Homo sapiens: one gene and its partners. The protein of the gene in region 1 purifies or fractionates together with the protein of each later gene. This does not show direct contact. Each region holds a gene or a part of one and is shown on either strand. Other genes may lie near its edges. The genes, in order: SEC24D, NRBF2 and RSU1.

The links.
Region 2: the proteins of SEC24D (region 1) and NRBF2 purify together in Homo sapiens (affinity purification with mass spectrometry; one large-scale study listed by BioGRID and IntAct). This does not show direct contact.
Region 3: the proteins of SEC24D (region 1) and RSU1 fractionate together in Homo sapiens (co-fractionation; one large-scale study listed by BioGRID). This does not show direct contact.

Annotation. Positions count from the first base shown.
Region 1 is NC_000004.12:118,815,556-118,819,209, forward strand, and holds part of SEC24D (protein transport protein Sec24D), read right to left. Parts: intron 1,858-3,654; coding exon 1,709-1,857; intron 172-1,708; coding exon 1-171. UniProt on the Homo sapiens protein: Component of the coat protein complex II (COPII) which promotes the formation of transport vesicles from the endoplasmic reticulum (ER).
Region 2 is NC_000010.11:63,143,235-63,146,888, reverse strand, and holds part of NRBF2 (nuclear receptor-binding factor 2), read right to left. Parts: intron 681-3,654; coding exon 596-680; intron 1-595. UniProt on the Homo sapiens protein: May modulate transcriptional activation by target nuclear receptors. Can act as transcriptional activator (in vitro). Involved in starvation-induced autophagy probably by its association with PI3K complex I (PI3KC3-C1).
Region 3 is NC_000010.11:16,691,826-16,695,479, forward strand, and holds part of RSU1 (ras suppressor protein 1), read right to left. Parts: intron 3,331-3,654; coding exon 3,198-3,330; intron 1-3,197. UniProt on the Homo sapiens protein: Potentially plays a role in the Ras signal transduction pathway. Capable of suppressing v-Ras transformation in vitro.

The DNA of each region.
Region 1 (3,654 bases):
TTGGTAGAGGCAAAGGTGAGGCACCAGGACCATTGAGTGTGGTGGGTGGTGGTGGAAGAACTTGAGATCCAGGCTGCAAAATGGAAGGCTGTGGAGGTCGTGGAGGAGTCTGCAATGATGTGGCTGACAGAGGGCCAGGGGGTCCCTGGCTTGGAGGAGCCATGCCTGAACCTGTGTGAGAAAGGAGACCAGCCCACTTAAATACCACATTTCTCAACTCTCTGACTTCTGCAAAGTACATGACAGAGATGTTTGTTTTCCTGACATAAAGCAAGAGGACACCCTTAGAAACACATGTTTGGGTTTTTTGCCACAAATTGAAATCTTCATTCAGAAAATAGAACAAACGCTATTTTATACAACTGGGATTTTTTCTTTTTTTTAAGGACAGGGTCTTGCTCTGTCACTGAGGCTGCAATACAATGGCAAGATAATGGACCACTGTAGCCTCAACATCCTGGGCTCCAGTGATCCTCCCACCTCAGCCTCCCAAGTAACTGAGACTACAGGCACACACCACCACGCCAAGTTCATTTTTTTTTTTTTTTTTTTTTGTAGAGTTGGGGTCTCGTGATATTGCTCAGGCTGGTCTCAAACTCCTGGGCTCAAGCAATACTTCCTCCTTGGCATCCCAAAGTGCTGGGATTATAGGTGTGAGCCACCATGCCTGGCCTGGAAAATTTTTAAAAGGTAAAAGCAACATTTATAATTTAAGTAAGGGAATTCATAGAATAAATTTTAACTCAGTTGTGTAATTACATGATATATGCATTAATTAAAGCATCTGTATCTGGTACAAATCTAGAAAATCATATAAAAATTCTATTACATAACAAGCATTACTCAGGTAAATTGCACATTCAATAAATTATTTGCATCCTGTGCGTGACTTGACCAAACAAATTTCAGAATTAGGTAGAAATAACCAGAGACAAGAGAAGGGCCACCAACATGCTCTCCAATCATATTGGAAATAGCTGTAAAACCAGATTATGTTTTCCTTTCTCTGATTATGGGAAACTGGGTTGCTTCTTTGGAGACTTATCCATTTTGAAATGAGTAAAAGACAGAAAATAGAGGGGTTTTAATGATACTTCAGAAAACTAATTTTAAGTAACATGGAAACATTCTTCATCTAGATAAATGGCCGACTGTGCTGTCATTACAGTGGAGCTTTCCATGACTCACAGGATATACAGCATTTCTGTTGATGTAAATCTCAGTACTGTGACTCTTTCCTCTCCTATCTTCTCTTTTCTGCCTCACAACATCTGAGCTTCCACTCTTTCCATGATCTAAACACATAATTAAAATGCACTGTGAAACAATGAGTACTATATTTCTGATTTGGGGGCCCCATCATAAACAATACAAGGTTTAAATTATCCTTATTTATTTCTTAAAATAATTTCACTATTCTAATGTTTATTTGTGAAATCAGCATTTTTTGTCTTTTCTTATTGTTCAATCATTGAATGGAAGGTATTCTGAGGGTCCTTCAATTACCTTGAAATAAGTGGCAGCATGATCAAGAAAACAATTAACTATAGCCATACATAAGATAGATGCTTTATTATTAAAAATGTCCAAATACTACTTCAACACAGTATGCCCTAGTTACATCTATTTTAAAAATGAAGAAAACCTCTCTCATTAAAAATGACCAGGACACAAGGCAGTCAATAAACACTAATAATAAAACTATTACCATAGCTGTTGATTTGCATAGCACTGAGCTGGCTGCCCAGCTGGGTGACAGATGAAGTGGATATAGGACCTGGATAAGAAGATTGTGCAGAGGGTTGGTATGGTGCATGTGAGGATGCCACATTGTTGACAGGTGGAGGGCCTGGAAATCTGAGAGAGGAAAACAGGATGTCAAACAATATCACAGCGTCTCAAGCAAATGGCGTACAATAATGTTAATAGCTTGTAAAATTAAATTAAGCCTGTCTAGTAGGCCTAGGAAAATGACTGATATTATATACTAAATCTTTAATTAAGCTTGACATGAACTCAATATGATCATGTAGCATCATCTTATATTTATGCTCACATGCTGAACATGCCAAGACAGAAAAAAAAAATCCTAATGTGAGCATAAAACCAGTTCTGGAAATCAATTTGGGAAACTGAGCCAACCAGAGCCTTATCTATACTAAAGTTAATCATCAACAGAATGAAAATCAAGAAAACAATACAGCCAGGAGCAGCGGCTCATGCCTATTATCCTAGCACTTTGGGAGGCTGAGGTGGGAGGACAATTTGAGCCCAGGAATTCAAGACCAGCCTGGGCAACATAGTGAGACCCCCTTCTCTACAAAAAATAAAACAAAATAAAATAAAAAATTAGCCAGGAGTGGTGGCGCTACTTGGGCGGTTGAAGTAAGATGATCACTTGAGTCCAGGAGGTCAAGACTACAGTGAGCTGAGACTGCACCACTGCACTCTAGCCTGGGCAACAGAGCCAGACCCTGTCCCAAAGAGAAAAAAAAAAAATCTAAAAATTACATCATGCTTTACCTTTGATTTAGCTTGAACTTATTAGACGTTTATTTTTTCTTGTTCTGCATTAAACAATGGCCGCTATCTGGACAATGTGCCTAGCATGGTTAATCTGCCAAATGCGATTAAAGCCTGCCTGAGAGTCACATTATAAATTCTTATGAATTTTAAATTTTAAATTAAGTTTTCCCAAATGGTATACTCTGATTTCAATTTCTCTATCTGAAAACTGGAAACTATTTCCCCATGGCCCATGTCTTGCCTTCTGCCCCCTACTGCCATTGAGAGGTTAGGAGCAGAGCCTGAGGGAAGCCAGTGCTTGCCTGAAGTCCCACAATTTATTTGTGACAACACTAGGACCAGCGTTTTTCCAGGTCTTCAGTGAGTGCACTATTCAAAGCATCACACTAATTTTATCTTGTCATTTTTCTCCATATGTTTAAATTGAATAATTATTATAAACAAAACAGAAAATTAACCTTCCAACCATTACTCTGAGTGCATGACATTAAGCATATTTGCAGAATAGTATCTCACACTTTGAGATAAATAGGTGAGTGATGAAAATGCTCTTTTCCACTCATACCTCTGAACAGCTTATTTCTGCAGTCTATGTTTTATCGGTAGCCGGAATTGACTTTATAATTTAGGACTCTTCTGTAATGATACAGAAAGGCTGCCTAATAAAATACATGTTGCAAGAAAAAAAAAAAAGAAAATGGTCTTTCCATTCTTTCCATTGTACGCACAAGTACAAGCTATCCTATAGCAGAAAATTGGCTAGAAATAATGGAATGAATAACATTGTAACCCAAAAATACTGTTAAACAAAACTATCCAATTTCTCTCCTGTCAAACTTTTCAAAAAGCCCAACACAGTTAGGCTAAGCACCCTTTGACTTAAATACTTTTTGGAAGAAAATGAATAAAAGATAGAAAATACAAACATTAACTTTTCACAGTAAAAGTTTTCTTTATATCTCTAATCAATTAATGACACTGGTGAAACACAAGCACAAAAAATATAATTCTAGTCCTGCATGACACATTTAAAATATGTTGTGATCACTAAAAAATGATTTCAAGAATTACATTAAAGGTCTGTTTTGTAAATCCATTGTTTCCTAAGACGAAAACATTTCTTCTTTT
Region 2 (3,654 bases), on another chromosome or scaffold:
TAAAATTAGGTCTTTGATAAGAAGCTAACAATTCTAAAATTCATACTGAAATGAAAGCTAACATCAGCATGTTACTACAGGCATGCATGTAGAGATGAGATATTCAGAAGGGAAGCTAAAAAAAAGACCACAGGAAAAATCTCCCACATTTTAGGTAACAAAAGTCTTATAGTAAGTTTTGCATTATCAGCATGTTAGAAAACAGAAGCTCAGTGAAAATGAATTGGTTGGAATTGAATTGAATTACTATTTTTAGAACCTGAAATGGCCAACTATTTGAAACCCAAACTCCTTTTTATAATAACTAAGATAAAATGGCAGACTTGTTACAATCAGCTCCTGTTTTTAGGGATCTTTGGGCTCAGAGAGCTGTATCCAGGAACTGTTTACCACATTTATGCCATCTTCATGATTTAGAAAGAAGATTGGATTAGCAGGAGCTGGGAAATCCAACACACTTACTTGAAAAATAATCAAAGCTGATATTCTGGTGGGTCAGCAGTATCAGTCTTGCATATGAAAAGCAACACACATTATTACTATTGTGACTTTCTGCTCTTCAGTTTTACACTGAGTACTTAATAAGAATACTCACCTGCAGCCTTTTTGTGACAAGAAATAGCCTCTTCGTATTTGCCTGCAGCTAATAAACGGTCTGCTCGTCTGCTCTGTTGATGAGCCTAGAAGACAAACATCCCTAAGTTCCTCTGGATCATAAAATAAAACATGATTTCTTTCAAAAAGCAACTACCTTTTAAGAAGATAAATAATACTGTTTTGTTGCCACATATCAAATCACTATTACAGCTCTATCTGTAGCTGGGGAAATGTAATGGGTAGAGCCTAGAACTGCAGCATCTGAAAGGAACTGGCAACTTCTTTCACTTCTACCATAAGCCCTCTCAAGGTTAACACCAGGCACTTAACTCCTTCAGTGACTCACATTCTTCCACTCTTTGGAGATAAACCAAGAGTTACAATCATAGATTGTTATTCAAAATGTCTATTTTCTTGATTTTTAACAAGCTCCTTTCAAAACAAGAGCTATTTTGTAGATACTTTCACTAATCTGTATAGTCTAAAAACTATAATCAGGAAATCACTCATCATGTAGTAAAATCCAAGCTTCTCTTCTATCATCTCATTCTTTCAACATTAAAGTTACTATTTGTTTTTAAAATAAAAAATTTGGACATTGCAGTTGATGAATTCATGATACCAACATCTAATATTACAAAGATTGTTTTAAAGATATCTCATCAAAAGAACAAAGTCAAAAAAATCAGAAGTTCTAACAGCAAATAATGTAATTGAAGGAAAACTTATTAAATAAGCAGTCACTGGCCTCCTTACACTTTAATAATTTCAAAAGAGCTTTAAGTCCAGGCACAGTGGCTCATGGCTGTAATCCCAGCACTTTGGGAGGCTGAGGCAGGCGGATCATCTGAGGTCAGGAGTTCAAGACCAGCCTGGCCAACATGGTGAAACCCCATCTCTACTAGAAATACAAAAATTAGCTGGGCGCAGTGGCTCACGCCTGTAATCCCAACACTTTGGGAGGCCGAGGCGGGCAGATCATGAGGTCAGGAGATCGAGACCATCCTGGCTAACAGGGTGAAACACCGTCTCTGCGGGCGCCTGTAATCCCAGCTACTCAGGAGGCTGAGGCAGGAGAACTGCTTGAACCTGGGAGGCAGAGGTTGCAATGAGGCAAGATCATGCCATTGCTCTCCAGCCTGGGTGAAAACAGTGAAACTCCATCTCAAAAAAAAAAAAAAAAAAAAAAAGCTTTAATATACATTATTTCAGCTGCTTTAACTACGACTTTGTTAATGTGTTTTCCTCTCTTACATAAGGAGGCCCAAAAGACTGATGGGGAGGTCGTGTAACTTACATAAGATTATACATTTAACTAGCAAGGAGAAAGGCAGAGATAATCAGCTAAAGTTTTCTACCTCATGTAACGATTTTCCTCAGTAACAAACACACACGATTTAGCAAAGCTTCACAGCTTCACAAAAAAGCAAAAAGCATTGTACACCCATATTCATAACAGCATTATTCACAACAGCCAAAAGGTGAAAGCAATCCAGATGTCCATCAACAGATAGATGGATAAATGCAGTATACACACACAATGGAAAGGTACTGTCTTTAAAAGTAAGGTAATTCTGGCCGGGCGCGGTGGCTCACGCCTGTAATCCTAGCACTTTTGGAGGCCGAGGCAGGCAAATCACAAGGTCAGGAGATCGAGACCATCTTGGCTAACACGGTGAAACCCCGTCTCTACTAAAAATACAAAAAAAATTAGCCAGGCGTGGTGGGGGGCACCTGTTGTCCCAGCTACTCAGGAGGCTGAGGCAGGAGAATAGCGTGAACCCGGAAGGCAGAGCTTGCAGTGAGCCGAGATCGCGCCACTCCACTCCAGCCTGGGTGACAGAGCGAGACTGTGTCTCAAAAAAAAAAAAAAAGGGAAGATAATTCTGACACATACTACAACATGGATGAACTGTGAGGACATTAGACTGAATAAAATAAGCCAGTCATAAAAGGACAAATACTATACAAATCGACTTATTGGGTATCTAAAGTAGTCAAATTCTTAAAAACAGGAAAGTTGAATGGTGGAACAACTCATCATTGAACAGGGGAGGGGGAAATGGGGAGTAGGTATTCAAACGGCATAGTTTCAGTTTTGCAAGATGAAAAAATTCTGGACATTTGTTGCACAACCATGCGAATATACTTAACACTACTAAACTGTACACTTAAAAATAATTAAGAAGGTAAACTTCACGTGTTTTTTACATCACTTAAAAAAGGTAAAAAGTGGCTGGGTGCTGTGGCTCATGCCTATAATCCCAGCACTTTAGGAGGCCAAAGCAGGCAGATCACTCGAGCTCAAGAGTTTGAGACAAGCCTGGGCAATATGGTGAAAACCCATCTCTACAAAAAATACAAAAATTAGCCGGGTGTGGCGCTCGCACCTGTAGTAGTAGTCCCAGCTACTGAGGAGGCTGAGGTAGGACAATCACTTGAGCCTGGGTAATGGAGGCTGCAGTGACCTGTGATCGCACCACTGCACTCCAGTCCGGGCAACAGAGTGAGATCTTGTCTCAAAAAAAAAAAAAAAAAAAAATCGGGCATGGTGGCTCATGCCTGTGATCCCAACACTTGCGGAGGCCAAGGCGGGTGGATCATCTGAGGTCAGGAGTTTGAGACCAGTCTGGCTAACATGGTGAAACCCCGTCTCTACAAAAATTAGCCCAGCAGGATGGTGGGTGCCTGTAATCCCAGCTACTCGGGAGGCTGAAGCAAGAGAATCGCCGCTTCAACCCGGGAGGCAGAGGTTGCAGTGAGCCGAGATCGCACCATTACACTTCAGCCTGGGCAACACAGTGAGACTCGGTCCCAAAAAAAAAACAAATCTGTTCTGTCAGTTAGCTGAAAAATGATTTGTCTTGGATGCTTTTTAAAGACATGTCCCTTTGATGCTGCATAAAAGTACTTCACAGAATCACGTTTGCAACTGAGATTATAAATATTCTGGGCATGTTTACAAATCATACTCAGTATAAAACACAGGTGAAGACAAAAGTAGAAAACAGCACTTCCAGCAATGCCTTGCTGTTTGCCTTTTCCCCACTTCTATTT
Region 3 (3,654 bases), on another chromosome or scaffold:
CCTCTCAGGTTCAAGCGATTCTCCTGCCTCAGCCTCCCAAGTAGCTGGGATTACAGGCACCCACCACCACACTCGGCTAATTTTTGTATTTTGAGTAGAAATGGGGTTTCACCATGTTGGAAAGGCTGGTCTTGAACTCCTGGCCTCAAGTGATTCACCCTCCTCATGGTGAATCACCCCACAATTCACCCCAAAGTGCTGGGATCATAGGCGTGAGCCACCGCACCCAGCCTACTGAAACTTTTTAATGTTGACTTAACTGCATAAAAGGTAATCCAAGGCTCCATGAGGAAATGAAACAGAAAAAGTTAGCAGACACATTGCTTAGACTACGCCAACCCCCCAAAATAGGATGCTAATAACAGACATAAAAACAGATATACCAATTATGTTATAGATACCTCTCATTTATCCAGAATCCTAACCACATTCAAATCAGTTAAAATAGTCTGTAACAGTGCAGAATGGTGATTAATTGCCTAATAATTACTTTGAGGTAATACAAAATCCAGAAACTCACAATTTAATCTTTTAAAATTAAAAGCACTTTCATATGCAATGTATTCTCATCCTCTATAAATTATAAAGTGATCTATGGAAAACTAAAAATTGTTAACCAGAATAATAAACAGAGAATTTCCTCTAATTCCAGATGGCTAGGAGTTTGTTCATGCATTTTTCTGTATACTATCATATACAGAATGACTTTTTTCAAGATACCATACAAACCAAGCTCTAAATAGCTTCCTGTTTACTAAGAAAAAATTAGAGCCCCATCTAAAACTCACGATAGCAATGATTAACAATTTACAAAGAAGAAGATAAACAATCATCTGCTAATTTGTGACTATATTTTCACACATTTTCATAATTAACTAATTTCTAAGGGTGAGCTACATTCGTATTTTTTTAAAAAAAATTGAATCTGTAATAACTGTACATATCTATATGGCTTATGAAACAATTAATACACATCCTATACCTATCTCATTTTATCCTTAAGGTAAGTCTTTAGACTTATACTGTAAGTGTCATAGTATTGTCTAAAGTAATCTAAACCACGCTTTACATTGCTTTTATATAGGAGGATACGGTATCATTTTGGCAATTTTAGTGTATTTCATTTTAAGGCCATTGTTCTTTTTTCTTTTTTTTGGGATGGAATATTGCTCTGTCGCCCAGGCTGGAGTGCAGTGGCACGATCTCAGCTCACTGCAACCTCTGCCTCCCTGGCTCAAGCGATTCTTGTGCCTCAGCCTCCTGAATAGCTAGGATTACAGGTGCCCCTCCACCATGCCCAGCTAATTTTTGTGTTTTTAGTTTCACCATGTTGGCCAGGCTGATCTCAAACTCCTGACCTCAAGTGATCCACCCGCCTTGCCTTCCCAAAGTGTTGGGGTTGCAGGCGTGAGCCACCATGCTCCGGCTGGCCATTATTCTTTACAGCTTGTCTTCTCTGTTTCTGTCTGGTGGAAACATGGCCACAGCAAGTGCTAAATGTTTGACCAGGAGCATGGCGCTCAGGCTGCAAGACTGCAGAAATGCAGCCAGCCACTTCTGGGCAGAGGCTCTGCCCTGCCAATCAATCCCGACCCACTGGCCTGGCACAGATTCACAGGGTTTTCTTGAGTGTGGGACATATTTCTGATACCAAAAAAAAAAAAAAGAAAAGAAACTCTTAACTAAATGTGACCTTTAGCAATCTTCTAGCTTTCTTCCAATAGTTGGGATGTTAGATTCTCAAAAGTTGGTGCCAGGCTGGGCATGGTGGCTCATGACTGTAATCCCAGCACTTTGGAAGATGAAAGCAGGATTGCTTGACACCAGGAGTTTGAGACCAGCCTGGGCAACAAAGGGAGACCCCGTCTCTGCAAAAAATTAAAAAAATTAGCTGGGCATGGTGGTGTGCTCCTGTAGTCCCAGCTACTTGGAAGGCTGAAATGGAAGGATTGCCTCAGCCCAGGCGCTTGAGGCTGCAGTGAGCCGTGATTGTGCCACTGCACTCCAGCCCAGCAATACAGTGAGACCCTGTCTCTTAAAAAAAATTAATTAATTAATTAAAAAATAAATTTTAAAAGTTGATGTCAGACACAAAAACAGATTACATTTGAGTAGGGATGTTTTTGTCTTTTTTGTATATGCTTAAAATTATACTAGATCTCAGCATTTGGGGTCAGGCAAGTATTTGATAAATGACAGTTTGTTTTGCAGCTGGGGGCTGGGATAAGGTAGGAAAATAATGACGGTACATATAACAACAGAAGCACGTGGAAGTGGCAGAATTCCTTTCAACCTTGACACATGGAGGAAGAAAGAAGCAGGAATCGTGAGGTTTTTGGGACAGTTTTGCATAGACTCCTTTCACCTGGAGTGAGGACTTGAGGTATTTGGATGCTGTGACTTTAAGCTGGCAGATTCCGCTTCCTCTCCTGCCTTCCCCTTTTCTCTAAGAGATTATCATCTCACTACAGTACAAGCTTCTCTATAATAGAATGACGCATTGCTAGTACTCTCTACTGATTTTATAAATAAACTGCTTAACAATTTTGTTCAGAACACTTGTAATTCTTTGCATTCACAGAAGAAAAAAAATATGTTCTGATCTGAATGGTGAATTTCCTTAGTGCCATGAATATTCAACTAATTTAATACCTCAAAAATTCTCTAAAGAAAATCAGTAAAAATCCCCTTGAAAATATCAATAAAAAACAATTTACAAATAGAGACAATGACCACATGCTGTTTTTTCTTGTTTTTTTCTTTTGAGAAAGGGTCGTGCTCTCTCATCCAGGCTCGAGTGCAGGGCATGACCACGACTCTGTGCAGCCTCAATGTCCTGGGCTCAAGTGATCCTCCCAACTCAGCCTCCAGAATAGCTACAATGACAAGCATGCACTACCATGCCTGGATAATTTCTTTTTCTTTTTCTTTTGTAGAGACGGGGTCTTGCTATGTTGCCCAGGCTGGTCTCAAACTCCTGGGCTCAAGCAATCCTCTAGTCTCGACTTCCCCAAATGCTAGGATTACAGCTGTGAGCCACACCACACCTGGCCGACATGCAGTTTTTAATAAAACATCTTAAAATGCTAAGTGCTAACTGCCATCAATAGGATACTGTCACATAATATTTTTAAAGGCGTAATTATAAATACTATAAAATCACAGTCTACTATTTCAGAAAATCAGAGTCTACTTACTATTTGTATGTCTCAGAACGGATATACTCAAAAACATGGGACACGCCAAGCTGGAACTGGTCTGCAATGGGGGTCACCCAGGGATTGTTCTCTGCTTTGAATACCTGCTTCTGGCCAGTTAAATCCAAGTTTCCTGGGGGGGGGGAAAAAAAAAGTGAAGGTCACTTCATCCAATACAGATCAGGTCTAAGAAGTCCTTCTCAGTAATCACAGCCTAAGTACCCTAAATCAAACCCTAAGTGCCTCTTGGATCATTTGATGTCTTTTAAATTTCTTAACCCAAGTCATCACAGGTACACAGTCATGACAGTACCTTGGCCCCAGAAATTAAGAACAAAGGAAGGAAGAAAGAAGACAGATGGAAAAGGAAAGCAGAGCAGAGGGAAGGAGGTATTTGCTGCAGAGACAAAAATGACTTGTTCAAAATTAAGAGAAGTGATAATATGAAAACCATTTA